7 linked regions of the Homo sapiens genome follow. The protein of the gene in region 1 purifies or fractionates together with the protein of each later gene. This does not show direct contact. Each region holds a gene or a part of one and is shown in the gene's direction. Other genes may lie near its edges.

Region 1 (4,429 bases):
GTGTGTGTGTGTGTAGTATGTTTTTGCTCTTCACCAGGGCTCCTTGCAGGTGCTGCTCTTCAGAGGTTCACTCCACCCCATCTGGGGCCCCATGACAAGGCAGGAATGATCATTGTTTCTCTCCCTTTCTGGCTCCTCACTTACCTCTCTCAAGACATCCTCTTTAGGCCGGGCACAGTGGCTCATGCCTACAATCCCAGCACTTTGGGAGGCTGAGGCAGGAGGATCGCTTGAGCCCAGGAGTTTGAGACCAGCTTGGACAATATAATGAGACCCCTGTCTCTATAAAAATATATTTTTTAATTAGCCAGGCATGATGGCATGCACCTGTAGTCTCAGCTACTCGGGAGGCTGAGGTGGGAGGATCACTTGAGCCCAGGAGGTTGAGGTCACAGTGAGCTATAATAGCACCACAGCACTCCAGCCAGGGCAAGAAATGTCTCAGAAAAAAAAAAAAAAAAAAGATTCTCTGTAGATTTAGATACCGTGGGATAGTGCTTGTCTTGTCACTGGAGGGCCAAGCATGAACCTGTGTTACCTGTGAAAGGGGGCTCTCTGGCCAGGCGTGGTGGCTCACGCCTGTAATCCCAGTACTTTGGGAGGCCAAGGCAGGCAGATCACGAGGTCAGGAGATTGAGACCATCCTGGCTAACACAGTGAAACCCCGTCTCTACTAAAAAATACAAAAAATTAGCCAGGCGTGGTGGCGGGTGCCTGTAGTCCCAGCTATTTGGGAGGCTAAGGCAGGAGAATGGCGTGAACCCAGGAGGCGGAGCTTGCAGTGAGCCGAGATTGCGCCACTGCACTCCAGCCTGGGTGACAGAGCAAGACTCTGTGTCAAAAAAAAAAAAAAAAAAAAAAAAGAAAGAAAGGCGGCTGTCCATCAGAGTAGATGGAAGAAGGTCCTTTGATGGCAAGTCAGAGAGCAGCGTCCCAAGCTCTCTCCAACAGCAGATTCACCTCTGCAGCTAGACATGGTCGTAATTAATCCTGGCAAACACTCTGGTAGGGAGTGTGATTGTCCTCATTTCAGAGATGAAGAAACTGAAGATCCTAGAAATTAAGCTGAAAAGTGGCAACAGGTAGATTCAAAACTGAGGCCTGTAGATTTTAAGCCCGCAGCTCTTTCCATGTCTGTCTCCTGCTCTTCATTACTAATGAATTTCCTCTTGTCATTAAAGATTGTCTGAAAGGAAATTTTCAGTGGCCAAAATAGCTAAAATTTTCTCTTTTTCTCTTTGATTTTCTGGGAGTTTATGTTTGAGATGGTGCAAGAGCACATTTGCTGCAGTTGGCAAATGCCCCACGTGGCAGGAATGTCACAGGAGCAATTCAAACAGCTGCAGTAGCTGCAGTGTTAGAGAAGTAGGTTTCAGCTTCTCTCTGATCCAGTGGTTCTCAAATGGAGCACTTCCCCACCAGGGGACACTTAACAATGTTGGAAGACATTTGGGTTGTCGCAGCTGGGGAGAGGGGTGCTACTGGCACCATGTTCACAGGATGCTGTAAACATCCTGCTGTGCTCAGGACAGCCCCCATAACAAAGAATTATCAGACCCCAAGTGTCAAAAGTGCCATGGTTGAGAAAGCCTGTAACCCAAGGTGGGTTGAGGGTAGGTTTCAAGGAATGGAGTAGTCTCAAGACTATGGATCTTCAGATTCTGTTACATCTTTCTACGAAACCGAAGTAAAGCGGGAGGGCCCTGGAACCCTGGGGCTGCTTCCTGACCTAAGCTGTGATCTCTGCAGAGGCTGACGCTTGTGCTTGCCCTGGCAACCCTGATAGCTGCCTTTGGGTCATCCTTCCAGTATGGGTACAACGTGGCTGCTGTCAACTCCCCAGCACTGGTAGGTCACTGTGGTGAGCAAGATGTGGGGAGGACGTTTGGAGCAGCCCATTGCCTGGGTGGGACTGGCCAGCGTGGGGCTGTTCACGCAGTGGGTCCTGAAGCAAAGGGAGAGGGAAACACCCTCCGGACACAGCACAGACCCGAGGGAACTCGCAGACACAGGTCTCTTGGGATGGGCCAGGTCTGGATGGACACACAGTGGGCCGGGCTCTAGGAGGGGGCTCAGATCTTCTGTGGCCTTGCTGTTTAGAGGGAATCCGGGGGGGCCAGGGGTCTCCCAGCTGATTGGAAAATTGGAGTCATCCCTTTCTGGCTGAGAAACACCCAGGGTGGTTTGCTGCTGAGAGGCTTCCCAGCCCTCCCGGTGGGTGCCCACCCTTCTCACTGCTCCTGAAGCTCTGTCCTGCCTCCCATCACCCCCCGGTTAATAAGGTTGGTCTCTGTGTGCCCAGGTTATTTCATTGGGTGTCCTAACAGCTAATGTTCTTCTTGCAAAACCGGATCAAATTATTTTGGTGTTCTGTTTTGCTTTGTCTCCTAGCTCATGCAACAATTTTACAATGAGACTTACTATGGTAGGACCGGTGAATTCATGGAAGACTTCCCCTTGACGTTGCTGTGGTCTGTAACCGTGTCCATGTTTCCATTTGGAGGGTTTATCGGATCCCTCCTGGTCGGCCCCTTGGTGAATAAATTTGGCAGGTAAGGGAAGGTGAATTTTTAATTCCCTGAAACTCATAGACCCCCATCAGAGCTAAAATACAGGCCTACAACTGAAATCCTTACCATGAGACTAAGATAATAACCACTGTGGTCATTTTTCTTTTTTCTTTCTTTTTTTTTTTTTTTTTTTTTTTAATTTTTGAGATGGAGTCTTGCTCTGTCAGCCAGGCTGGAATGCAGTGGCGCGATCTTGGCTCACCGCAACCTCCGCCTCCCAGGTTCAAGCGATTCTCCTGCCTCAGCCTCCTGATCCTGGGATCACAGATGTATACCACCATACCCAGCTAATGTATTTCTAGTAGAGACGGAGTTTCACCATGTTGGTCAAGCTGGTCTCAAACTCCTGACCTCAGGTGACCCACCCGCCTCAGCCCCCCAGAGTGCTGGGATTACAGGCGTGAGCCACTGCGCCTGGCCGGTCATTTTTATTTTCTAATGGGGTCAGAAAAGAAGATCAGACATTGACAGTGTTTGGGGACCTAGGCAGGGTCTCAGGGGTTAGAAGCAGGGGTGGCCAGGGATCTACAGGCCCTCGGGCAGACCCGGAAGGAGCCGTGTGTGCTTGTGGAGACCCAGGACTTGCTTCTGCTCATACTGCCCTTTTGCCCCACAGTGTCATCTAGGACATCTCTCTTGTGACACCAGCCTCGTGAACAAAGGGGTCAGGGCTGTATCTTTGCCCCTATTTCTAGAAACATTAGAAATGCCATATTTTATTTCAAAAAAGTGTCCTTAAGATGTCACGCTCCCCCGTATAAATTCCATGGACATTATGGAAGACCTAGTTAGAAAGAGAATTTTAGAGGTCCCCTTGTCCAACCCGTCTAGGGATGAGGAGCACGTGGGGCTGAGTGAGGTCACAGATCTAGTGAGCCCAGAGTAACCCAGACTCTGACTCCTCCTCCAGTATTTCAAGAAAAGAATCTGAGAATAAAAACACACAGCTGGGCGCAGTGGCTCACGTCTGTAATCCCAACACTTTGGGTGGCAGAGGCGGGCGGATCACCTGAGGTCAGGAGTTGGAGACCAGCCTGGCCAACATGGTGAAACTCCGTCTCTACTAAAAATACAAAAATTAGCCGGGCATGGTGGTGGGTGCCTGTAACCCCCCTACTCGGGAGGCTGAGGCCGGAGAATTGCTTGAGCCTGGGAAGCGGAGGTTGCCGTGAGCTAAGATCGCACCATCGCACTCCAGCCTGGGCAACAAGAGCGAAACTCCGTCTCAAAAAACAAACAAACAAAAAACACCGCTGCAGCTTTGGGATCTAACATCCTCTTGAGAGATTAGTGTTGAACCCACAGTTTTCCCTGTGGGCCCTCATGGAGCAGAACATCCCTCCAGTCAGAATCAGACCTGCCGGACACTTCTTGAGTTAAGAGCACGCCGCTTGGCCCACAGATGGAGCTGAAGGTTGCTAATTGAGCTGTCTACTTAGGAGTCTGATAAACACTATTTGGCTATTTGCCGTTTTCTTAAGTATTTGTGGGTGTTATTTATTTCTTTATTTTTTGAGGTAGAGTCTTGCTCTGACGCCCAGGCTGGAGTGCAGTGGTGTGAAATTGGCTCACTGCAACCTCCACCTCCTGGGTTCAAGCCATTCTCCTGCCTCAGCTTCCCAAGTAGCTGGGATTACAGGTGTCTGCCACCACGCGCAGCTAATCTTTGTATTTTTAGTAGAGACAGGGTTTCACCATATTGGCCAGGCTGGTCTCAAACTCCTGGCGTCAAGTGATCCACCCACCTCGGCCTCCCCAAGTGCTGAGATGACAGAGGTGAAACACTGCATGTGGCCAGTGTTATTTAAATAGCAACTAACTTTTATTAATGAGTTCCTATGTGCCAGGCACTGTCCTGA
Region 2 (4,429 bases), on another chromosome or scaffold:
GATGGATATTTGGGTTCTTTCTACCTTTTTGCTATTGCAAATAGTGCTGTTGTGAACATTTGTGTACAGGTATTTGTTTGAATTCCTGTTTTCAGTTCTTTTATGTATATATCTAGCAGGGTAATTGCTGGATTATATGGTAATTCTGTGTTTAACTTAATAAGGAACTGACATACTGTTTTCAACAGCGATTGCACCATTTTACATTCCTATCAGCTATATACCAGGGTTACAGTTTCTCTACATCTTTGTCAGCACTTATATTTTCCAGGGTTTTTTGTTGGTTTGTTTTAGCCACCCTAGTGAGCATGAGGTAGTATCTCACTGTGGTTTTGATCCTGTTTCCCCCAAATGGCTAATGATGCTGAGCCTCTTTTCTTGTTTTTTTTTTTGTTTGTTTGTTTGTTTGGCCATGCGTATACCTTTGGAGACATATCTATTCAGGTGCTTTGCCCATTTTTTAAATTGGGTTGTTTTTTTGTTTTTAAAAGAATTCCTTGTATATTCTGGATACTAGATGTTTATCAGATACATGATTTGCAAATATTTTCTCCTATTTTGTGGGGGTTTGTTTCATTTATTTGATACTGTCCTTTGACACACAGTTTTTAAAAATTTTGATGATGTCCAGTTTATGTGTTTTGTTGTTGCTTGTGCTTTTGTGTTTTATTTTAAAATCTTTGTTTAATCTGGCCGGGCACGGTGGCTCACGCCTGTAATCCCAGCACTTTGGGAGGCCGAGGCAGGTGAATCATTTGAGGTCAGGAGTTCGAGACCAGCCTGGCCAACATGGTAAAACCCCGTCTCTACTAAAAATACAAAAAAATTAGCCGGGTGTGGTGGTACACGCCTGTAATCCCAGCTACTCGGGAGGCTGAGGCAGGAGAATTGCTTGAACCTGGGATGTGGAGGTTGCAGTGAGCCGAGATCACGCCAGTGCACTCCAGCCTGGGCAACAGAGCGAGACTCTGTCTCAAAAAAAAAAAAATAATAATAATAATCTTTGTTTAATCCAAAATTATCAAGATTTATTGCTATGTTTCCCCCTAAGAGTTTATAGTTTTCAGTCTTACATTTAGGTCTGTAGTTCATTTGAGTTCATTTTTGCGTATGCGTTGATGAAGAGGTCCAATTTTATTCTTTCACAAGTGGTTATCCAGTTTTGCCTGCATCATTTGTTTAATGTTTCCCCATTGACTGGTCTTGGCACCCTTGTTGAAATTAATTGACCATAGATGTATGGGTTTATTTCTAGACTCTATTCTGTTTCATTCTTCTATATATCTGTCCTATGCCAGTACCACACTGTGTCAATTATTGTAGCTTTGTAGTGAGTTTTGAAATCAGGACATGTGAGTTCAACTTTGTTCTTTTTCAAAATTATTTTAGCTATTTGGGGTCTCTTGAAATTCCATTTGAATTTTAGGATTAGCTTTTCCATTTCTGTAAAAAGTATTGTTGGGATTTTGGTGGGGATTGCATTGAATATGTAGTCACATTGGGAAGTATTACCATCTTAATGATATTAAGTCTTCCAGTCCATGAACTTGGGATTTTTCCATCTATTTAGATATTTCCTTCAGCAATGTTTTGTGATTTTTAGTATATACGTCCTGCACCTCTTTGGTTAAATTTATCACTAAGTATTTGATTTTTTTATTCTACTATAAATGGAATTGTTTCCTTAATTTCCTTTTTAGATTGTTTACTGCTATTTATAGAAATACAACAGATATTTGTGTATTGCTTTTGCATAATGTAACTTCTGCTGAATTTATTAGCTCAAATAATACTTTTGTGGATCTTATTCTATGTATAAGATTACACCATCTGTGAATAGAGATAATTTTACTTGTTTCTTTTCAATTTGGATGCCCTTTATCTTTCTTGCCTGATTGCCCTGGCTAGGACCTCGACTACAGTGTTGACTACAGGTGGCGAAAATGAGCATCTTTGTCTTGTTCCTGATCTTATAAGGAAAGCTTTCAGTCTTCTACCATTGAGTATGATGGTAGCTGTGAGTTTTTTATAATAACCTTTTATCAGGTTGAGGAAGTTCCTTCCCATTTTTAATTTATTGAGTGTTTTATCATGAGAGGTTGTTGGATTTTGTCAAATTTTTTTTCTGCATTTATTGGGATGATCATGTGGGGTTTTTCCCCCTACATTCTTCTAATGTGTATGTAATACATATTTGATTTTTCCATGTTGAACCACCATTGCATTCGGCCATTGAGATTTTAATCTAGGAGTCTATTAATTGAATAAGGATTCAAAATAAGGGTTCCATATGTTGTTTTTAAATGTTTTCACTATTTCTGAGGAAATCTAAATATATTTTAAGTATCAATAGAAGAGATGTATTTGTTTTCTTCTTTTTGTTTTTGTAAGAGTGTCAATGGTTGATAGAATAATGGGAGGGAGGTAGTGAACCAGAAGATACTAGGACGTATATTATAGGGCTACAGTAATGAAGCAGTGCTAATGGACAGATACGAAACTAAAGATGAAGTGTAGGAACAGCTCAAGTGTAGATAAGCACTGAAGCTGGGCATGGTGGCTCACACCTTTAATCCCAACACTTTGGGTGGCGGAGGTAGGAGAATCACTTGAGCCCAGGAGGTCAAGGCTGCAGTGAGCCATGATCCTACCACTGCACTCTAGCCTGGGTGGCAGAGCAAGACTCTGTCTCAAAAAAAAAAAAAAAAAAATCAGTATTGTGCTGTCTTTTGTTAAGTGAATCATTTTAGACCATCTAAAGGACAATTGATTCTCATCATTCACCCTACTTATATTCTATAAAGTTGCCATGAACACTGGAATAAGAAATACTAAACTATTGCTGCTAGGGCAAATAATAGGGTTAGGTTCCTCTGAGCCTCTGGTTACAACATTTTCATCAACCAGTTGACACAAAACTTGCTTTATGTGTATTTTTGTTTAAAGGTGTCTTATTTAATGTCTGTTGATTCATTGCACTACCACTCATGCCTGAACAAAGCTTCTCTAACACACAAATTTTCTCCATAAGGGACATCACAGCACTAGGAGTAATAGACGGCACTTTAGCATGACACTTGGGGGCGACTCTAAATAGCAAAATCACCAACAAAAAGCACAGAAGTCCAAAAAAGTGGCAGTAAATAGGCCATGAAAAGGGTAGTTGTTCACAGGATCAGAGCTGAAACAGTCGCCTGTTCACCCTCACCTGGGAAAACACGTGTCAGGTAATTCAAATTCTTCACTGCTCTGCACATGCACATATCCGTGATGACAGGAAAAAAGTATTGATATGGAGGTTGCAAATAAGTTTTAATAAGTAGATGAATTTGCACATATAGAATTCACAAGTATTGAGAGTCAGCTGTACATACTTTTTAATCTTAATTTTTTTCTCCATAATATGTTCTATATGGTGCTAATCATTAGTATTTTAACGTTTATATAACACTTAGGTTAAGTTAAAATACAAATACAAAGCAAGAATCTTCCTGGAGGAAAGCCTTTCATTTGGAGTCCTAGGAGAGCATGGCCGAGGAGTCACTGAACACTATGGAATCAATGTAAGTTCCCCTTTTTTAAGAACGTTTCCCCTCTTATAGGAGACATGTAGTTCCATTCTGCTAGGCCTATATTTTTATAGGCACAAGACAGTGTTCCTTATCAGTTTGAAGGGTCACGAAACTTTGGTGTCTGTCACCTCAGTGAGCCCAGGATGAGTCTAGTCAGCCAGACCAGGGAACCCCATCTTCCTTCTGCACTTATAAACTCGGAGTGGGTAGTCATGGTTTGTGCTCTGTTTGCAAAGTTTCATTCGAATAGACTTTTAGTGTCTCTTCTCTAGAAATGGTTAAATTTTGCCTTCCAATTATTTCTTAAAATCATTAGGAATTTCCTGAGTGGTCTTTTCAGAAGTATTCATGACGGCAGAGAAAGGATACTGTTTCTGGTGTTTAAAAATCTGTATTCTATATAATGTGTTTGTGGGAGGTAGATACAGTTACGCGTGCGTGCGTGTGTGTGTGCATGTGTGTGTGTGTCAGAAACACCACTGGCATGCATTCAGCAAAACCTCTTAAAGTCCCAAACAGAATGAGGTGTCATGTTTCCTTTTCTGAGGGAAATGGACCCAGACTGCCCGCAGTGCCTAGTGGGTTTTGCTCCTGGAGCCTCAGGGCAGAGGAAGTCAGCCAGTCTTGAACAGCTGTCTTACCAACCACCATGGGAAGAGTTACAGAAAGCTTTTTCTCCAAAACATGCGCATAAGAGCTGTGCAACCTGTGTTACAGAGTTGAACTATAAAACGTAAAATTGCCTTACATTATCGACATCCCGCTAACCATATAGTCCCAGAGAAAAATGTAAAGCAGAGTGAATATCCCGGGAGGTTGGATGGAAGCACCTCCTCCAAGGCAGACTGACATTCAGC
Region 3 (4,429 bases), on another chromosome or scaffold:
GCAGGGACTCTGGAGCCTGCTAGCCTGGGCTCAAATCCCAGCTCAGCCACCAGATAGCCACCTATTGCTCAGTGACCCTGAGTGAAGCATTGAACCTCTGTGCCTCAGTTTCCTCCTTTGTAAAAGGGAATAATAATAGTACCCATGGCCTTAAAGTTGTTTTGAGAATAAATAAGTCGATGTGGACAGCACTTAGAACAGTGCCTGGCACGTGGTACATACCATAAAAGTGTTTCATATTATCCCTATGTTTTAAATGTAAAAAGCCTTATCTTGGCCAGGTACAGTGGCTCACACCTGTAATCACAGCACTTTGGGAGATCGAAGAAGGCAGATTGCTTGAGCCCAGGAGTTCAAGACCAGCCTGGGCAATATACCAAGACCTTATCTCTACAAAAAAAACAAAAAACGAAATTAGCTGGGCATGGTGGCACATACCTGTAGTCCCAGCTACTTGGGAGGCTGAGGTGGGAGGATTGCTTGAGCCTGGGAGGTCGAGGCTGCAGTGAGCTGTGATCGTGCCACTGCACTCCAGCCTGGGGCACAGAGTGGGACCCCGTCTCAAAAAAAAAAAAAAAAAAATTTAAGAGAGAAAGAGAGAAAGAAAAAGAAAAGGCCTATATTTTAGAAAGTGATAGAGCTGGGAGGTTTTCTGTTTGGTTTGGTTTTTGTTGGTTGGTTGGTTTTCTCAATGTCTTTACTTGATCATTAAAAAAAGCAGCAGCAGCAGCTGGTAACCCTATTTGCCCTATACTTCTTTTTGTACTCATCTTTGATACCCAGAAGTCTAAGAAATACTGATTTGTAAAGAACTGTTTTACCCAAAATTGTAGCACTTTTCTTTGCAACTTATTTTCTCCCAAACACTCCAGCTTCCTGAGATTCCTCTTGAGTGCTTAGAAGAGTACCTGGCTTATCAGAAGGGCTAGATAAGAGTTAGTCCTTTTATTCTTGTATATCGATTTTTTTTGCATATCTTATTAGGATGGATCTAGAAGTAGAATTGCTGGGTCAAGAGCATTCCTATTAAAATGGAGACTCCTGTGACTCGGCTGTCTTCCTGAAACATTATACGTGGAAGTGTCCACTTCCTCACACCCCGCCATTTTCTATGACATCCAAGCAGGAAAACTGGGTGGACAATGAGGTGAGGAGGTGCAGAAATTCCTGTCGCCTCCTCCCCTCCTGAGCTCAGAATAGTTTGGGTCTGAAAGACGGCTGCTCCCCACAGGGAGGTAGAGGAGGTGAGATGCAGAGGCTCGCAGCCCCCTAACTCTCACGGGCACCCTGGGAGATCTTGTTCAAGGCACAAGATTTCACACGCTGACGGCCACAACTAGCCTGCCTAAAGCAGCCAGTTTTGCTTGAAAGATGAGCTCCACTTATCCAGAGTGGGTGCCCCACTCTGGGCTGGGGCCAAGTCTAGAGCTCTTCGTCTTACTTGGCCACAGAAAGAAAAAGGGCGGAACATGCTGAGGATGCCATTGTGCCTCTTCCTCCTTTACATTTAATGGACCAGTAGAGAAGAAGGAATGCGTTTCACCTTTCTGTAAGTAACACGCTCAGTTCATTCCTTCCCAGCTCTCCATCCACGAGATGGATGACCCCCACGGCAAGCGCTTCCTCATGGTGATGAAGGGGGCCCCTGAGCGCATCCTAGAGAAATGCAGCACCATCATGATCAACGGCGAGGAGCACCCACTGGACAAGAGCACTGCCAAGACCTTCCACACAGCCTACATGGAGCTGGGCGGGTTGGGCGAGCGTGTGCTGGGTGAGTGCGGCGGCAGGGCCCTGCCCATCACCTGGTGGGCACAGAGATGAGGCAGGCGCCTTGAGGACCTGTGACCTAGCCCAGTGGCCATGGCATCCACGTGAAGCATGTAAAGGAGAACATGATAAGCAGGATGGGAACAAGGAGAGGATGCTGTGTGACAGCACCAAGCAGGGTGGGATGGCCTCCAGAGAGGCAAGCTCAGGGAAGACTTTATGGAAGGAGTTAAATTTCAAACTGGGCCTTAAGTGACTGCATTTGAGGGGAGATAGGGGAAAGTATCCAGGGCCCAGGGAACAGCACAGGCCAATCACAGAGGCAGAACGGCGTGGGGCACATTGGGTGCTGCCAGCAGGTGAGATGGCACTGTCACAGAAACAGGGTTCAAGGGCTGGACTGGAGGTCATGAGATGGAGGTCTTGAACATCTGGGTGAGGAGCCAGGTTTCATCCTGCAGTCAGTAGAGAGCACTGAGGGCTGTGCCACTAGAGTGAGCTGGGCAGTCGCAGGGCTGGGGAAGACTTTATGGAAGGAGTTAAATTTCTTTAACTTCTTTAAATGTCTTTGGCGGCAGCAGGGAGAGGAGAGATGCACATCTCCATAGGAAGCAGCTGCCCTTGCTCAGGCAAAAGGGATGGGAATTTTTTCAGGGTGATGGGAATGGGAAGGAGAGATCAGGGCAAGAGACTTCATAGAGGTAGAGTTTGGTAAGATTTAGAACCTATCAGAGAAGGATAATGTTTAAAAATGATTAAGCTTCCCATTTAACGACTAGGAAGAGAGTGATGCCAGTGATGCAGACAAAGTGTCAGGAAGGAAGGAACCTTAGAAATGCAACAGGAGGAGGACCCAATGGGGGTGCCTGCGGTGTTGTCAAAGGGGACAGTGTGTCCTGTTGTCAGCACCAGGGCTGGCGGAATGGTGCCCCATCAGGACCACAGAATGACAAATTCAAGGAAACAGAAGTGTATGGTTGACGATCCGGCTCATTAAACACCATGGAAGTCCTCACCAATACAGATGCAGTCTGTGGAATGTGTGTTTCTAAAGGCTATTGGAGTTGGCAAATCAGATAAAGCATATAAATGAGATGGTGATGCTTTAGGCATCCAATAACCCACAGTACCGGGTATTCTACACGGGATCGATGCCCACTTGCGTTTGATTTCTCAAAGCCTGCTCCATTGACATTTGCAAAGCAGTGGGCCAGGCTGAAAATAAATTGGATGTGAAAGCTGATCACACAATCTTGGAGGTCCCACCAGACACAAGAGTCCCTTCCACCTCAGCCTATGAGAGGCTGATGCCTTCTGAGAAAAGGATGGCTCGGCCCCATTCCTGCTGGCCTTTCTCTTGGGCTTATCTTGATCTAGCACTGAACTTTGTGCCCCTCCGCTGAACCCCCTTGTTCCTTCACATGCTGTTTTCTCTGCTGAAAATGGCCTTCCCACCTCCACCCTCCCTTTTTTCCCTAGAAATCATCTTTGCCCCTCTCAAGCTTCACCTCACATGTGACCTCCTTGGGGAAGTCTCTCCTAATCCTCCAGGCAGCTGAAATGTGTCTCTGCCCTGAGATGTACCCTATGCTTGATCCCTTTAACTCTGTGCCCCGCTAAACTTCAGAAGTCGAGACTGTGTATTGCCCTAGAACTTGGCAATATAGCAAGATATATTTCTAGAACACAGAGCCTAATGAGCTCACAGTGAATTATATTTGGATGAAATATGTCTTTCCTAAAAAAATGCATTATGGAGTTGAAGAAATTAAACAATTCTGGCTTATTCTAATGTATTGGTAAAACAGCAGAGGACCAAGGTGTATGAGCATGTTCTCCTCTTATTTTTTTTCGTTTCCTATTCTAGTTTCACTGACTCACTAATTCATCTGTATTACAGGTTTCTGTCATCTCTACCTGCCAGCAGACGAGTTTCCAGAAACCTACTCATTTGACATAGACGCTATGAACTTTCCGACCTCCAACCTCTGTTTTGTGGGACTCTTGTCAATGATCGATCCCCCTCGGTCCACCGTGCCAGATGCAGTCACCAAATGCCGGAGTGCAGGGATCAAGGTGGGAGTTATTTTCCTGACTCAAGAAGTTCTTTCTTTATGTCGTGTTCCTTTCTAATAATGGTTTTCATAGCAGATGGTCAGTATTTAGGTGTCTTCAAGTAAATATCATAATTCCTATTTTATTTCTAGTTTCACTGTGCTAAGGTTACTGAAACTGTCCCACAAAAAGAAAATGATTGTGTCTATGTGGAATGAACCACATAAACAGTAAATGCAATGAGAAGAATCTCCTAGTGCCTTGAAGTGACCATATCTCGCCCTAGTCCATGGTAGATACTAAAAGGCTTTATTGGCTGGGCGCAGTGGCTCATGCCTGAAATCCCAGCACTTTGGGAAGCTGAGGCAGGCGGATCATCTGAGGTCAGGAGTTCCAGACCAGCCATGGCCAACATGGTGAAACCCCGTTTCTACTAAAAATACAAAAAAATTAGCCAGATGTGGTGGCACACACCTGTAATCCCAGCTACTCGGGAGGCTGAGGCAGGAGAATCTCTTGAATCCAGGAGGCAGAGGTTGCAGTGAGCCGAGATCACACCATTGCACTCCAGCTTGGGCAACAAGAGTGAAACTCTGTCTCAAAA
Region 4 (3,500 bases), on another chromosome or scaffold:
GCAAGACAGCAAGGGCACCCCTGGGCCACTGCTGTGTTTGGGAGGCAGGTTTTGGGGGTTGTCAGAAGGCATTCACCTGGTTCTCTCGCTCACCTGAGACACCCGATAGATTCCTGGAAACTCCAGGAAAGTATCTGAAGATCTGGTTCTCCATTCTCTCTTATTAACAAGGAGAACCACAAGTGCCCCCCAGATCCCGGCTAGAAGGACCAGACAGCTTTCCACCCCGGTTCCCAGGCAGCCCTGCTCCCATAGTCCTGTGTCCCATCGGCCCCATGCTCCCAGGACAGTCCTAATTCCCACCTCTCAGAACCTTGTCAGCCAAGTTCTTCCTGCTCTCTGGCCCAAATCCTCCTCCTACATTGGAAACTGAGCCTCTCTGCATCCTCTGCTCTTTCTATCCCGCTGTCATTCATCAGATTTTCCAAATCTTTGGATTCCTGAGTGGCAGAAGAGGTTTTCTGAGTTTAAGTTCTGATTCTGTGTGTGATTCTCACTCTACCACCTCTTCAAACCTTTGTTGTCTTATCTACAAAATAGAATAGTAGTAATCCATCACCTAAGGTTGTTGTGAAGGTTCAATAAGTTAATGCGTATTTAAAATGCCTCCCACAGTACCTGACATATACTGGGCTTCAGTGAGGTACTAGCTATTATTATTAACCAAGTTTCCTGTGGTAACAGTTGTAGCTTTGTGACTGGGCCAAATCACTTAACCCCTCTGCGCTCCAGTCTTTGTTTCTATAATGGGGATGATGATAATGCCTAGCTCATTGGATTGTTCTGTCCCCTACGATCAGCCATGTTAAGTGATTCATATCATGTCTGGTACTTAAAAATCACGCCACGCATGTACATTATTATGATGAAAAATATGATCCGTGATATCCTGACCAAAATATTAAAGGGACTAAAGATAGCTGTGGCTTGTTCAAGAAGAATATTGTGTCACTATCCCATATATTATCCCATTTGCTCTTCACAGCTTCCATTTTTCGCTAGGCGGATGGCATGGAACTTTTTATAAATGAGATATTATGAAAAATGATGTTTTAGGACTCTCATTTCTACAGTGGGAGTAGGTCACCCATTGCAATTTTGGATTTGCTTAAAAAAATTCTTGCCATCACCTTCTAATGGATGATCTGTGTACAACAATTGTTTATTGACTCTGAATGTCTAAGTACCAGGGTCAGTCTATTTCAAGGGGAGGGAAGCATTAATTAACCTCCAGCATTAGATTCAGTGATTCTTTTCCAATGATGCAGTTCATGACTTTGCTCGCATTTACTTTTCATCAATCCTGAAAGAATTGAGGTAAAATAGTTCCTCTGCACATGTGTGTCAAGCTAAATGGATAACAGCAGATACAGATCTGTTTGCCTGTCTGCACTTGCCTTTAGACAAAATTCATCAATTTTACAAAAGCCACTGACTAAACATGGCACCAATACAAATGAAGCACTTCTAGCAGGCGGAGATTCCCTTTGTTTCTGATCTGGTAAATGCGGTAGTTTCCTGCTGAGAGATGGGAAGTGCTGGCCTAGGACAGCAAGGTGCCCTACAGGTGGGGCCAAAAGGGTCAAGACCGTTCTACAGGAAGTTTAGGAGAAGTTCAATGGTTCCAGATCCTGTGTGCTTCGGGTAATTCTGACCCTCTTCATTAGTGATAATGGCATGAAGCTCTTTCACACAGTCTTTTTTTTTTTTCTTTTTTTTTTTCAGACAGGGTCTCACCCTGTCACGTAGGCTGGAGTGCAGTGGTGAGATCACGGCTCACTGCAGCCTCGACTTCATGGGCTCAAGCGATTCTCCTGCCTCAGCCTCCTAAGTAGTCGGGATCATAGGCACTTGCCACCACATCCGGCTAATTTTTTTGTAGAGACAGGATTTCACCACATTACACAGGCTGGTTTCAAACTCCGAGGCTCAAGTGATCTGCCTGCATCGGCCTCCCAAAGCGCTGAGATTACAAGCGTGAGCCACTACGCCTTGCCCTCCACACAGCCTTGCTTGGTGTTAAAGATTAAACAAAGACCACAGGTGATCACTGTCTTCGTGGTGCCAGTTTCAAGGGCACCCTTCTTCCCTTCCCAGCCTCCGAGAGAAGGAGAGAGGGTCCACAAGCCAGATCCATCCCCATCCACACAGGTAAAACCACGACTGTGCAGCTAGCAGGTGGAGATAACATTTGGAAAAAGGCTTTGTAAATGCTAAAGTCCTACTCAAGTCCAAGGGAGAGAAATTATTATTATTCGTTTTGTGAAACCAATTTAGTTTGGCTGGGTAATGGAAGAATTTCTACATACATTCATTACTTCTGATCAGGCAAGACCAGTCTGACACAGGAACAGTCTATGGCTCACTCTTAAAGCCACAGCAGGCTGCCAGGGCTTGGAGAAATAGAAACCTCTCTTGCACAAGAATAGTCTCAATGAATCATGTTAAGGCCTCTTTAGGTTTTTCAGACTCCATGCACCCTGTGGAAACTGCCTTTCTTGAGTAGAGGTACGTTCAGCACTTCATAAAATAATCTTGGAGCCTCCAGACACACGGATGGAGGAGCATGATTTCATTTGTTTCTTTGCAAAACTGCTGTCCCCAACTGAAAAACCTGATTATCCTTTCAAATAGGGAATTCGGCTTTCCACGTTGGAACCAGAACAGTTAACCTTCAAACCCCCAAGGCTTGCAAGAGATGAATCAGTTTCTCAGACAGCCAAAGCCGTGGCTTATAACTCATCCAACCCAGAAAACTGGACCGCTGGTCACCTTCCTTCCCCCTGCCCCCAACTCTGCAGACAGAGGTTTCCCGTTGATTATGCCTTGATTAGAGTCAGGAGAGAAGCAAACCAGGTATATAGGATTCCATTATCCTTCCCTCCTCTGCTCCCAACCAGGGTCACGCTGAGAGGGATCTCGGTGAACATGTGAACAATCAAGCCATGTTTACCATGGACGTTTAGTTTTCTTTTCTCAAAATCAAAACAGAGTTTAGTAGGCAGCGTATTTCATACATGCCCCTTGATCAATGGAATGATCTGTCAGAAGCCATTAAAGCCCCCATTAGCTTGAATGCATTCAAAGCTAAACTATTGGATCATTTAAGGGCTGCAGTGATTGTTTTTAATATACCGTACATTGATTTCTCCCTGTGAGCAGCAACATAAGTTTGAAACTAACTGTGTATGACTAAGGCTCCATTTGCTGTCTCCAACCCTCTGTGAGAAGCATGGTTTCACTTCGACCAGAAATGTCTGTGTATAGTTTTCAAAGAGATGCAGACCCTGTTCGATTTCCCAAGATTTAGACTGGGTCGGGTTGTTATTTCTTTTTTCCCTGAGCTTTCTCCCATTTCTTTGTGCCCATTAAGTGAGCTGTGCGTGCAGAATGGGAGAGGCATCCCTGCCAAGGACTTCAAGTGAAAGGCGGTGGGAGAAATTGTTCTGAAAGCATGAAGCCCAGCTGAGGCCAAAATCAAAGTGAATTTGACAGCCTTG
Region 5 (4,429 bases), on another chromosome or scaffold:
CTCAAGCGTCAGTAACAACTTCTGTGTTACCAGATCTGCTGGACATTTTCCTTCTGCTAGGACTCTCGGCAGCAGTCAACACCTTCACTCTCTCCTCTGTTTTGAACACCCTGTCCTAAGCTACTGGGAGGCCTGTCTTACCAGGCTTCCCCAGTCTTTCTGTACTTTCCTGTAGTCCTTAAACAGGCTCATCCTCCTCGGGCTGCCATTGAAGGCTAGAGTTCTTCCACACTCAGCCTTCTTCTCTTACTTGAAAATAGCTCCATTGACAACTAAGAGTTCTGAAGCTACAATTCTTTGTGCTTCCCAGACTTTTCCTTGTTTTCCTTTCTAAGCTAATAGTATATACCTCTTTCACCTAATATATTTCATTGGTTATTGTTTCAATTAAGGGATCATACCTAATTTTTATTAAACAATTGTGAGGAGAGACTGAAATATTTTGAATTGATATATTTTTATACTAGAAACAGTTGTAAATATGTTTTTAAAAGTCATCTTACAAAAAAATAACCTTAGGATGGTTCATGATTTTACACATTTGTATTAATCACAGTACCAAATGCTTTTCTTTTCTCTGTGAAGGTTTCACAAGAAGTACTGTGGCTGTATACAGTACCTGTATGCTGGTTGTTCTTTTGCGGGTCCAGTTAAACATAATTGGTGGATATATTTACCTGGATAATGCAGCAGTTGGCAAAAATGGCACTGTAAGTTTAATAGACTTAAATAGACATTGTTCTTTCCCTCAGGAGGTTCAAAGTTTAACTTATTTATCCTGATAACAATTTCTATGAAATAAATATTTTTATATTTCATGTGATTGTGAACTTTTAGTATTATGAATAATTTTTATATGTTGAAACTAGAATTTTTGGTGTGTTAAAAATTACTATTTTTCCCGTCATTTCAGATCTTGAAAAATCTCAGCCAAAGTTTTATTGAAAACATTTCTTATTTACCAGTTTAAAACTTGGATAATTGAACTGTATTTCTGTTTTATACAGACAATTCTTGCTCCCCCAGATGTCCAACAGCAGTATTTATCAAGTATTCAGCACCTACTTGGAGATGGTAAGATTCTTATTTGTGACTTTTATACTAATTTTAATTCATTTATTTTTATTATTGAGGAATTTTTAAACTAAGCAAGGCTTTTAGGTTTGTTTTTTCTTTAATAGGCCTGACAGAATTGATCACTGTCATTAAACAAGCTGTGCAGAAGGTTTTAGGAAGGTAAGGCATTTTTCTTTGACTTTTCTGACTTCTTGATTCTAATGAGTGAAAGAAAATTAGAATTGTTCTAGTGAAACCAGTGACTTGACAAACGGTGATTTGTGAAACTCTTTGTAATAAAATCAGATACCATCCTAGGATATTGCATTGTGGGATCCATTTTCTTTATCTTTTTTTTTATACAGAGGGGAAAGTTTTAATGTTTCATTGTTAATTGATTGATTTCATACAAATCAGAAATATTTGGGTCATGAGATAAAAGACCTACTTTAAAATCTGCCTCTGAGGCTTTTACCTCCCATTTATACTAGTAATATCTATAATTACAGTAGGAATTCTCTTATGGAATCCAGAGAAATACTTTTCTTGGCTCTGTAGTAATGGCCCTTAACTAGTGGCTGATTTCGTAATCCATTCTATTCCAGTCAGCAGTTACAGGTGTAAGCAGAAGAAACAGGATTTTAGATAGTAGCCTGTTAAGAAAAGAGTGTATATAGGATGTGTTGTATAGTTTCTATTTATCCCAATTCCCTTTTCTCTGTTTCTAGTGTTTCTCTTAAACATTCTTTGTCCCTTTTGGACTTGGAGCAAAAACTAAAAGAAATCAGAAATCTCGTTGAGCAGCATAAGTCTTCTTCTTGGATTAATAAAGATGGATCCAAACCTTTATTATGCCATTATATGATGCCAGATGAAGAAACTCCATTAGCAGTGCAGGTGCTTAATTCATAACCATTTAACCAAACCAGTTACTCTATTCTTTTAAAATTTTACTCTCTTGAAATTTTGATTTCTGAGTCTCTTGAAAGGTAAGTGATTGAAAAGCATATATTTCAGTAATTGAAGTAAAACCCATTAATTTAGAAAAACAGCCATTATGAGTGATTTCTAGTAAGAAGCACTTAACAATTTTAGATATTCAGTACATTTTTATTATCAGGTATGTGACAGTAGATACTGTGATGTATTCTGGAGATGTAAAATGTGTAAGACATGTTCATTACACCTGGGGAACTGAAGATACAAATTCAATTGGTGGGCTGCAGCGTATTTTTGTATCAGATCAAGTAGCAGAACATAGAGCTGAAGGTCAGGGCAAGATTATAAAGAGCTTTATATGCCAAGATAACGAGTCTGAACTCCAATTTGTAGACAAAGAAAGGTAGATTTTAACCAGTCCAATAACACAATCACCTTTGCTTTTTAAAAAAGTTAATGATGAAAGTACAAAAATGGACTGAGGAGGTTATAGTCATCCACTTGAGAAACAATGTCTAATCCAAAAATTATCAACTATAGTGTTGCTAAACACTGGTGTGTCCTGGGTAGTTGTTACGTAAGTTATTCATTGATTAAAAATAATAGAAATGCCAGATTGCAGGTTATGGCTCATTTCCTAAATTAGTAATTTTTCGTTTGTCTGCTGGTTTGCACTCATTCTTTGTAATTGGGAGAACAGCTCTTACTTGACAACTGGAAAAGCCTTAGAACAGAGAGGCCCCCTATGCCATACCTCAGCAGAGAGGCCCTGTTAGAACAGAATGCCTTGTTTTCATTGCCTGCAGGATTTCCCATTGCCAGAGACAAAGATGAACCTGTTTGGGTGCTGAGAGATCCTACATTCATGAGTAGGCCAAAAAAAAAGTTGCATCCCATTTAAGGAAACCCTGTAACTTGAAAGATAGAGACTAAACTGATCAAACAGAACAGATGGAACAGAATTAATGAAACAGGAGACAACTTACAAAATAGAATCTCAAGGAGACGCAATAAGAGTATTAAGAAATCTTTTTAGGACTCTAAAGTAATTTACAGTTTTCAAAATTCAAAACAGGACCAAAAAGAAAACAAAAGAACAGATGAAGAGAGAAATGATGGACCAGATCTTACTGAACTGAATTAAAACCTGAAATTTAAGATTGAAAGGACACATAGAGTCTCAGACTAGATTGATGAAAAAAGACACACACATATCCTGATAAAATCTCTTACTGATAAAAGAAAAAAGCATAGGAGGTTGACGGGGAGGATCACTTGGGTCCAGGAGTTCAGGACCAGCCTGGGCAACATAGCGAGATCCTGTCTCTAAAAATTAAAATTAAAAAAATCAGTCAGATGGGCATAGTGGTGCATGGCTATAGTCCCAGCTACTCAGGAGGCTGAGGAGGAAGGATTTTTTAAGCTCAGCAGTTCGAGTCCGTGGTGTGCTATGGTTGCACCATTGCACTCCAGACTGGGCAACACCAATCTGTCTCTTAAAAAAAAAATGCTTTGGGAGGCCAAGGCAAGAGGATGGCTTGAGGCCAGGAATTTGAGACCAGCCTGGGAAGCATAACAAGACCCTACCCCTACAAAAAAAAAAAAAATGAAAAATTAGTATGGTGGCCCATGCCTGTAGTCCTAACTACTACTTAGGAAGCTGAGGCAGGAGGATCACTTGAGCCCACGAGTTCGAGGTTGCCTAAGCTATGATCATGCCACTGCACTCCAGTCTGGATGACAGAGTGAGACCCTTTCTCAAAAAAATAATAATAGTAAAATTAAATTAAAAAAAAAGGCCGGGTGCGGTGGTGCACGCCTGTAATCCCAGCACTTTGGGAGGCCGAGGCAGGCGGATCACGAGGTCAGGAGTTCGAGACCAGTCTGACCAATATGGTGAAACCCTGTCTCTACTAAAAATACAAATAAAAATACAAACTTAGCCGGTCGTGGTGGCGCACGCTTGTAATCCCAGCTACTCAGGAGGTTGAGGCAGGAGAATCACTTGAACCTCGGAGGCAGAGGTTTCAGGGAGCCAAGATCATGCCATTGCACTCCAGCCTGGGCGACAGAGCGAGACTCCGTCTCAAAAAAAAAAAAAAAAACCCAGACCTCTGCAAACTCAAAACCTATTTCTTCTTTGTCTGACTATACTAGAAATCTATCCAAGAAGGGCCAGATAAACAGAGCTCTTACTAAGTATAATTTTACTTTTACTCATGTCTTAAATTCTACTTATTTGCACACATAAACCATTACAGGTTTTTATTTTGGTGGGGGAGGGTCTAACTTTTTTTATTGTTGATAGAACATAGACTTAGATTTCCTAAACTCTTTATTTATGAATGTGATTAGTTTCATCATAACCCTGTGCTAATGTTTGAAAACCTTAAGTGTGACATTTTAATTCTATAGGCCTGTGGACTTTCTCCTC
Region 6 (4,429 bases), on another chromosome or scaffold:
ACAAGGTGAGTAAGATGTGGCCCCTGCAGGAGGTTGCGTTCTGGTAAGGGAGTATACTTTTTTTTGGACAAATCCTTGTATAGAAAGGGATAAAAAGCATAGGAATTAAGAAACAAATTGTGAGTGCAAGGAGCAAGTGACCAGGAAGGATTATGTGAAAGAGATTCTTTAGGCAGAATATTTAGCTCAGAATTATGCTTTTCTAGAGTTTAATTGTAAATATAATGCAAACCTTTACTTTACGAGTGTGCCTCATATTATTGCTGGTAGATAAAAATCAAGAAACAGGAAAAGCATTTCATCTTTACCTTTCCGATTTGATCGCTCCCTAACAATCCCTGAACAAGGTAAATCCTGAATGGTGATAATCATTCAACCTTCATCTCTGCTAAAAGCATTTCTTTTCCTCCCAGGCAAAAACAAACAGTGCCTGCTGTCTAGCACTAGTTAAACTAGTTAAACACTGCCTATAAAGCTTATCTTAAGGAAGAGTTATAACAGTATCTGCTTCTGTTTAGCAGTTTTCTTTTTGTTCCAGAATAAAGGTGTGATTCCAGGTAAACAGTAAAGTTTTTAGAAATAGAGCTTCCCTATTGTATGCTATTTTTCCATCAGTGTCATTATCTGGAAGTGTTTACTCGTGTTATAAGATCTGTGTGAACTGACACTGCAGTAGTGGTCTCTGGGAACACAGGTTTTTGGAACACGGAGTTGGATCTCTAGCATCTCCAACGTATATCTGAGTCAAGTGATTAGAGGCTTTTTCCCTCCTTCACATACTGCTCTCTGACTGAGATGTGATCTGTGCAGTTAACTTTGCTGCCTCCTTTCCACTGTTGGGTATTTTTGTCCTTTTCTTTTGTTTCTTTTTTTTTTTTGAGATGGAGTTTTGCTCTTGTTGCCCAGGCTGGACTGCAGTGGTGCGATCTTGGTTCACTGTAACCTCTGCCTCTGGGTTCAAGCAATTCTCCTGTCTTAGCCTCCTGAGTAGCTGGGATTACAGGCGCCCACCACCGCGCCCAGCTAATTTTTTGTATTTTTAGTAGAGACAGGGTTTCATCATGTTGGCCAGGCTGGTCTTGAACTCTGTACCTCAGGTGGGCCACTGCACCCGGCCTATTTTTGCCCTTTTCTTTCCTATTTTCTGCCTATCTTCTTGAGGAATTTGTAAGGTTAAATACTTATAGTTACACCTTATACAGTACTTGGCTAACCCTTTTCAACTAGGAAGATTATGATGCTTAATCTTAATGAGCCAGTAATTACAGTATGTCTTCATATTCTCACAGACACACTCAAGCGTAGAGACCATGATGGTTAAAAATAAGACTTTCAAATGACAATATCCAGTTCTTAGAAGATGAGAGGAGACGGCTGAGCATGGTGGCTCATGCCTGTACTCCCAGCACTTTGGGAGGCCGAGGTGGGTGGATCACCTGAGGTCAGGAGTTCGAGACCAGCCTGGCCCACGTGGTGAAACCCCATCTCTACTAAAAATACAAAAATTAGCCAGGTGTGGTGGCTCACGCCTGTAGTCCCAGCTACTCAGGAGATTGTGCCACTGCAACAGAGTGAGACTCCATCTCAAAAAAAAAAGAAGATGGGAGGAGACAAAAGTTCTGGTTCTTAAATACTGTACTGTTGAATCAGGCAAAAATACTTACAAATGTAGAAACTGAGACTCCAATAAGATAAACCAGGTTTACAAGTCACTGTATCAGCTTGGAGGATTCCTGTCCTCTTCTCTCATCCTTGGCCCATAAGGAACATTATGTTCTTGCTGTGGCTTCTCAGTGGTATGTATTATAATAGACGTGTGTGGTGTTTGGGGAACTTGTTTAACTAGTGCTAGACAGCAGGCACTGTTTGTTTTCGCCTGGGAGGAAAAGAAATGCTTTTTGCAGAGATGAAGGTTGAATGATGATCACTATTCAGGATTTACCTTGTTCAGAAAGCTGTGGGAGGCAAGAGTAGTTAAGTTAGGAACAGCTGTCTGGAGCTTTACCTCTTGCTTTTTATCTCAGCCGAAGGTAGGTAGTGATTTTTTTTATGTCTAATGCATATGGTATAAACTAGCATCTCATAACTCCAAGGTCTTCTAATATGAGCAGCTGGTTTCTCTTTAGTTAGCCCTAAGAGGCCTCTGAAATAAGTCCTAAAAGTCCCCCAAATAAGAACATTCCTCTCCTGAAAAAAAAACTTTGTTGAAACGAAAGTATTATATACTTCTAGCATTGATGAATGTTACAATTAATATACTTTTAAAAATAAATTTTAGACTTTCTTTGTTATAGAGGCTGCTTCTCTTAAAAGCCTTCTCTTGGCCGGGTATGGTGGCTCATGCCTGTAATCTCATCACTTTGGGAGGCCGAGGCGGGCAGATCATGAGGTCAGGAGATCGAGGCCATCATGGCTAACATGGTGAAACCCCGTCTCTACTAAAAATACAAAAAAACTAGCCGGGTGTCGTGGCATGTGCCTGTGGTCCCAGCTAATTGGGAGGCTGAGGCAGGAGAATCGCTTGAACCCGGGAGGCGGAGGTTGCAGTGAGCCGAGATCATGCCACTGTACTCCAGCCTAGGCGACAGAGCAAGACTCCGTCTCAAAAAAAAAAAAAAAAAAAAAAAAAAAGCCTTCTCTTTGAAGGCTTAGCTCTGTATGTCTTAAACAGCAGTTATTCATGTCAGTTATTCATGTACCATCTGTGAATTTGGCCACATCACTGTACCACCTATACTATTATTTGCTTAGTATTTTCTTTTAAATCTACTTTACATCAATTTACTCCCCCTTTATGAAAAATTGAGGAACCGTTTACTTACAACAAATAGACCCATTTTAATTATATAGTTTGTGTTTTGGAAGTTGTATATAGTGATATTACCACCAGCATGATCAAGATACAAAGCATTGACCTGGTGCAGTGGCTCACACCTGTAATTTCAACACTTTGGGAGGCCAAGGAAGGAGGATCTCTTGAGCCCAGGAGTTTGAGGGCAGCCAGGGCAACACAGTGAGACTCCTATCTCTATAAAAAATAAAAACTTAGCCAGGCTTGGTGGCATGCACCTGTAGTCCCAGCTACTTGGGAGGCTGAGGTGAGAGGATCGCTTGAGCCCAGGAGGGTGAGGCTGCAGGGAGCCACGATAGTGCCGCTGCACTTGGCCTGGGTGACAGAGTGAGACCCTGTCTCAGAAAATAAGTCCCCTACCCACCCACCCCAAAAAAGGTACAGAGCATTTCTGTCTCCCTGAAAATGTCCCTATGTCCCTTTGCAGTGGATCCCTGCCCTGCTTTCTGTCACTCTAGACCTCTTTACCCACCCATCCCATCCCTGCACCCCCGCCTTTTTTTTTTTTTTTTTTTTTAACTTAGATTTGTCCTCAACTGTAATGTCTCTAAATTCTGGGATTTGAGGTGTGTGTTTGTGTGGGTTTTTTTTTTTTTTTCCAAATCACATAAAAGTGAGAGAGAGAGAGAGAGAGAGTGTGTGTGTGTGTGTGTATACATATATATATATATATATATTTTTTTTTTTTTTTTTTCTGAGACGGACTCTCACCCTGTCGCCCAGGCTGGAGTGCAATGGCGCCATCTCGGTTCACTGCAACCTCCGCCTCCCGGGTTCAAACGATTCTCCTGCCTCAGCCTCCTGAGTAGCTGGGGTTACAGGCACACCACCACGCCCAGGTAATTTTTTGTATCTTTAGTAGAGACGAGATTTCACCATGTTGGACAGGCTGGTCTCAAACTCCTATCGTGATCCGCCCGCCTCTGCCTCCCAAAGTGCCAGAATTACAGGCATGAGCCACCGCTGCCAGCCAAATGTATAATTTTTTAAATTCACACTTTGGTGAACTGGTTTAACTGAGGAAAAGTGTTGATTCGTGTGTTTTCAAAAGATGAAATTTTTTTTTTTCCCCTGAAACAGAGTCTTGCTCTGTCACCTAGGCTGGAGTGCAGTGGTGCATTCTTGGCTCACTGCAACCTCTACCTCCTGGGTTCAAGCGATTCTCCTGCCTCAGCTTCCTGAGTAGCTGGGATTACAGGTGCCCGCCATTGCACACGACTAGTTTTTGTATTTTTAGTAGAGATGGATGGGGTTTTACCATCTTGGCCAGGCTGGTCTCGAACTCCTGACTTCGTGATCTGCCCACCCCGGCCTCCCAAAGTGCTGGGATTACAGGTGTGAGCCACTGCCTAAGATGAAAAAATTTTTAAAGTGACTAGTTCATTAATTCCCAAATCTTAGGCTCTAAAGACACCTTTTATTTCTATTGTAGTTACCAGTTTTGGAAGATATGATAAACAACTTTTTTTTTTTTTTTTTTTTTTTTGAGACGGAGTCTTGGTCTGTCGCCCAGGCTGGAGTGCAGTGGCACAATCTCGGCTTACTGCAAGCTCCGCCTCCCGGGTTCACGCCATTCTC
Region 7 (4,429 bases), on another chromosome or scaffold:
TAATTTTTTTGTATTTTTAGTAGAGACGGGGTTTCACCATGTTGGCCAGGCTGGTCTCAAACTCCTGACCTCAAGTGATCTGCCCACCTTAGCCTCCCAAAGTGCTGGGATTACAGGTGTGAGCCACCGTGCCTGGCTAAGAGACAATATTCTTTATACTTTATGCCTAAATCAATGAACAAGTATTTATTATCCACCTCAAGCCCATCACCACCAAAACTGTAAAATGTAAAAATAGGAGACAATCTCTGGCTTCAAGCAGCTCACTGCCTAGGTGGAGAGTGTGGGATAGCGCAACTGCCAAAGAACTCAAGACAGCACAAACATTGGCCAATTTACACGACACGGACTCTGTGAGCCACAGAAATTTAGCCATGTGGTGTCTAGCAAGCTGTGGACCATGGGAGCAGTCAGTCATGTAGTAGCAAAACATTTCCACGTTCAGTCCCACGTCTGTCATATCAGTTGTGTGGCCCTGAGTAAGACTTGAGCCTATTCACTCATCTGTAAAATAATAGCATTCACATGGCCAGGCGCGGTGGCTCACAGCACTTTGGGAGGCCAAGGCGGTTGGGTCACGAGGTCAGGAGATTGAGACCATCCTGGCTAACAAGGTGAAACCCCGTCTCTACTAAAAATACAAAAAATTAGCCAGGCGTGATGGCACACACCTGTAGTCCCAGCTACTCGGGAGGCTGAGGCGGGAGAATTGCTTGAATCCGGGAGGCAGAGGTTGCAATGAGCCGAGATCGCGCCATTGCACTCCAGCCTGGACGACACAGTGAGAGTCTGTCTCAAAAAATGAATAAATTAATTAATTAATTAATAATAGCATTCGTATTTGTAAGAAATTAAAGCACTTCGATACATACTGTGTGCTCAATACTAGCAAAACACTTCACAGGTTTCTTTTTTTCCCATTTACTTCTCAGCAACACTTTAAGGTAGTTTCTGTTATTATCCCCACTTCTCAGATATGGAGACCGAGGCACAGAGAGGTTAAGTGGCCTAAACAAGGTCTTGCAAGTCATTCTTAAGGAAGGAATGTAATTGAATGTCCTAGAGAAGGCGGGACTGGAAGGAATGGGTAGGATCTGGGTGGATGGAAGGAAAGGATAATGGGATCAATATAAACAAAGTTGTGCTCCAGTATTTCCTAATGTGATCCTAGCACGTAGTGAAACAACCCCAGGCTCCTTGATTGCCTTTAAAAAAAAATTGCCCAGGGCTGGTGGCTCACACCTGTAATCCCAGCACTTTGGTAGGTTGAGGCAGGAGGATCACTTGAAGCCAGGAGTTTGAGACCAGCCTGGGCAACATAGTGAGACCCCTCTATCTCTAAAAACAACTTTTTTTTAAATTAGCTGGGTGTGGCAGTGTGTACCTGTAGTCCCAGAAACTCAGGAGTCTGAGGTAGGAGGATGGCTTGAGCCCAGGAGTTCAAGGTTACAGTGATTGTGCCAATGCACTCCAGCCTGGGGGGTGACAGAGTGAGGCCCTGTGTCTCTTAAAAAAGTACTCTTCAAGCAATGCCCAGCTTCATTTTTATGAATTTTCTCTGTGGACAGTAGTCATTTTCTCCAGCTCTAGGAAGGCTGAAGGCTGTAAGTCCAAGCCCCACTTTACAAGGGAGAAAATTAAACATAAAGATAGTGCTTTATCCTGCAATGTGTGACCTGGAGTTTCAACTGGCCACGTTTTTATTCCACTCTGCTGAGGGCTGAGCCTGTGCTAATCCCAGATGCCTACTTGGGACAGTTCTGGGAACCAACACATCAGAGCTGATGGGAAATTCTGCCCCCAGAGACCGCATCTCAAAAGACACTTGGGAGGTTTCTGGCCCTGTTCTGGATTAAGAGACTTTGCTTCACCACTGGCTTATTCGAGAAACTTGAACCCATTTAAACGTTAATTGTTGCCAAGTGGGCCGAGTGCAGTGGCTCATGCCTATAATCGCAGCACTTTGGGAGGCTGAGGTAGAAGGATCATCTGAAGCCAGGAGTTCAAGACCATCCTGGCCAACATAATTAGAAAAAAATTTTTTTTTTAATTATTATAGCTGGACATGGTGGCATGCCTATAAACTTAGCTACTTGAGAGGCCGACGAGGGAGGAGTTTGTGGCTGCAGTGAGCTGTGATCACACCACTGCACTCCAGTCTGGGCGACAGAGCAAGACCTTGTCTCCAAAAAACAAATAAAAATGTTGCCAAGTGAACAGTACAATTGCTTCACGAAGTCGTTCTATTTTAGAGCATGTTTCGGGTGTCACTGGGTGGTATCTGAATGCATGGTTTTCTTATTTAGGGGATAGTTTGGGTTAATATTGTTCTTCTGTGTTTTAACAAACATATTTTAGTGGTGAAGGAGGGACCACACAAAGGGAACTTAAAAATCCAGAGAGGTTCATTTCGACGTTTTCTGGTTTCATCTCTCACTCAGAAGTGTAAAGAGGACATCTGTGTGAATGACTGGAGTGTCTTCCCTGTCACGTTGGTTAGAATCCTGGCCCTCCTCACCTATGCTGTGTGACCCTGGATGAGTTAGTGCTCTGTGCCTCAGTTTCCTCCTTAATAAAATGGAAATATTAATGAGCTCTACCTCAAAAGGTTGTCAAGGAAGATTAAATGGAATAATCATGTAAAGTATTGAAATCTTTGCCTGGCACATAGTAAACAGTCAAAAAATAAATACTGTCCATTCTTTTTATTACATCCGGGAGTAGCCACAATCCTCAGGGCTTCTAGCAGTTGGGCCTTTTGACTTCATCATTTTTTCTTATTTGTTTTGTTCTTACAGGCACGGTTACACAAAGGGAATGGGCTGCCAGAGACAGGGAGGCTGTTGCCTGCAGGGATGTCAGGGTTTTGTTGTTTTAAACAACTGAGTGGTTTTTTAAACCCTGAATTCCCAGTTAGAAATGTTTCAAGATAACCCCTTTTTATGGTCATCATCCCCAATAAGTTAATTACTGGACCCAAGGAAGTACCAAAAATTGTGGGGCTGAATACTCTGGCTGCTGTGACTCAAATTCCTTGGAATTCACCCTTAATTTTCTTGGATTTTTCTTTTGGTTAAAAAAAATTGACAGCAGTTGTAAGACAATTCTAAGATCGGTCTATTTGTACACGTAATTCATTTTATAATCAAAGATTCATGGATTTTCCTAAAAGGTTGGTCTTTTGTCTTGTTCCATCACCTTTTCTGTGTTATGCCTAAAATAGAGGAAACCTTGGACCCAAGTAGTTGAAAAGAACACATGATTTCTAGTACATGCCTGTTATTGCTGAAAGCCAGCACTTTCTAGAATGTAAGATCTGAAGAAGTTTTATCCTTTTCGTTGGTAGCCTAGTATAATAGAAGTTACTATAGTAACAGAGAACCTGTTCTTTGGCCCATAGAGTTATTCAGCAGAAGAAAAGCAAATCAATCTTGGAGCCATTATTCTTGTTTAAAACCTGAAAAGGTGACTATATTTTAATTGAGCAAACACAGATGGGCAAATGAGTTAGAACAGAGAGGGGCACATTGTACTACCTCTAGTTAGATCCTTTTCACCCAGCAGGCCTGAAGGTTTCTCTCTCAAGCCTCACATTCTGTTTTTTTTTTTTGTTTTTTGAGACCGTCTTACTGTGTTGCCTGGGCTGGAGTGTAGTGGCGTGATCTCGGCTCACTGCAACCTCCGCCTCCTGGGTTCAAGTGATTCTCCTGCCTCAACCTCCTGAGTAGCTGGTATTACAGGTGCATGCCACCATGCCCAGCTAATTTTTGTATTTTTTTTTTAGTAAAGAGGGGGTTTCACCATATTGGCCAGGCTGGTCTTGAACTCCTGATCTCAAGTGATCCACCCGCCTCGGCCTCCCAGAATGCTGGGATTACAGGCATGCGCCACTGTACCCATCAAGCCTCACATTCTCTTACTGGCACCTAGCTGTCTCTTTCATATTCAGCCAGTGTGTGGCACGTGCTGCATGCCTGGCGCTGGCTCTGTGCTGGAGAGGACAGCAAATGCAAGATGGGCTAGTTCCTGTCCTCAGGCAGCGTATGTCTTGTGGTTGGGGAGGAGAGCTGAAGGGAGACTTGATCTCATCTCATGGATCAGGAAAGGCTTCCCCAGGGATGTGGCAATCAAGGCGAGACCTAAAAAATGAGTGGGAGATCCACGGGTGAAGAAGGGATGGAGTGGGGGAGGCACATGTCTCAGGCAGAGTGTACTGAATATGCAGAAGCCCTGAGGTGAGTCTGTGCTCCTTTTCAGAACTTAGAATAAAGCTGTGTGTGGTGGCTCGCACTTGTAATTCCAGTCATTCAGGAGGAATGGAGGCAGGAGACCAGAGGTTGAGGTTGAAGTGAGCTCTGACTGTGCCATTGCACCCTAGCCTGGGCAACAGAGTGAGACCCTGTCTCTTAAAAGAAAAAAAGAACTTAGA

The links.
Region 2: the proteins of SLC2A5 (region 1) and SPTLC1 purify together in Homo sapiens (affinity purification with mass spectrometry; one large-scale study listed by BioGRID and IntAct). This does not show direct contact.
Region 3: the proteins of SLC2A5 (region 1) and ATP12A purify together in Homo sapiens (affinity purification with mass spectrometry; 2 studies listed by BioGRID and IntAct, with this or other methods). This does not show direct contact.
Region 4: the proteins of SLC2A5 (region 1) and FTO purify together in Homo sapiens (affinity purification with mass spectrometry; one large-scale study listed by BioGRID and IntAct). This does not show direct contact.
Region 5: the proteins of SLC2A5 (region 1) and PEX3 purify together in Homo sapiens (affinity purification with mass spectrometry; one large-scale study listed by BioGRID and IntAct). This does not show direct contact.
Region 6: the proteins of SLC2A5 (region 1) and PDXDC1 purify together in Homo sapiens (affinity purification with mass spectrometry; one large-scale study listed by BioGRID and IntAct). This does not show direct contact.
Region 7: the proteins of SLC2A5 (region 1) and TMCC3 purify together in Homo sapiens (affinity purification with mass spectrometry; one large-scale study listed by BioGRID and IntAct). This does not show direct contact.

What each region holds. Positions count from the first base shown.
Region 1 is NC_000001.11:9,055,571-9,059,999, reverse strand, and holds part of SLC2A5 (solute carrier family 2, facilitated glucose transporter member 5), read left to right. Parts: intron 1-1,749; coding exon 1,750-1,848; intron 1,849-2,391; coding exon 2,392-2,552; intron 2,553-4,429. UniProt on the Homo sapiens protein: Functions as a fructose transporter that has only low activity with other monosaccharides. Can mediate the uptake of 2-deoxyglucose, but with low efficiency. Essential for fructose uptake in the small intestine.
Region 2 is NC_000009.12:92,049,094-92,053,522, reverse strand, and holds part of SPTLC1 (serine palmitoyltransferase 1), read left to right. Parts: intron 1-3,455; coding exon 3,456-3,563; intron 3,564-4,429. UniProt on the Homo sapiens protein: Component of the serine palmitoyltransferase multisubunit enzyme (SPT) that catalyzes the initial and rate-limiting step in sphingolipid biosynthesis by condensing L-serine and activated acyl-CoA (most commonly palmitoyl-CoA) to form long-chain bases.
Region 3 is NC_000013.11:24,697,077-24,701,505, forward strand, and holds part of ATP12A (potassium-transporting ATPase alpha chain 2), read left to right. Parts: intron 1-1,581; coding exon 1,582-1,774; intron 1,775-3,670; coding exon 3,671-3,846; intron 3,847-4,429. UniProt on the Homo sapiens protein: The catalytic subunit of a H(+)/K(+) ATPase and/or Na(+)/K(+) ATPase pump which transports K(+) ions in exchange for Na(+) and/or H(+) ions across the apical membrane of epithelial cells.
Region 4 is NC_000016.10:54,116,656-54,120,155, forward strand, and holds part of FTO (alpha-ketoglutarate-dependent dioxygenase FTO), read left to right. Parts: 3' UTR 1-3,500.
Region 5 is NC_000006.12:143,470,376-143,474,804, forward strand, and holds part of PEX3 (peroxisomal biogenesis factor 3), read left to right. Parts: intron 1-585; coding exon 586-710; intron 711-1,007; coding exon 1,008-1,074; intron 1,075-1,181; coding exon 1,182-1,236; intron 1,237-1,784; coding exon 1,785-1,953; intron 1,954-4,410; coding exon 4,411-4,429. UniProt on the Homo sapiens protein: Involved in peroxisome biosynthesis and integrity. Assembles membrane vesicles before the matrix proteins are translocated. As a docking factor for PEX19, is necessary for the import of peroxisomal membrane proteins in the peroxisomes.
Region 6 is NC_000016.10:14,980,969-14,985,397, forward strand, and holds part of PDXDC1 (pyridoxal-dependent decarboxylase domain-containing protein 1), read left to right. Parts: exon of another isoform or gene 1-5; intron 6-3,550; exon of another isoform or gene 3,551-3,690; intron 3,691-4,429.
Region 7 is NC_000012.12:94,573,574-94,578,002, reverse strand, and holds part of TMCC3 (transmembrane and coiled-coil domain protein 3), read left to right. Parts: intron 1-4,429.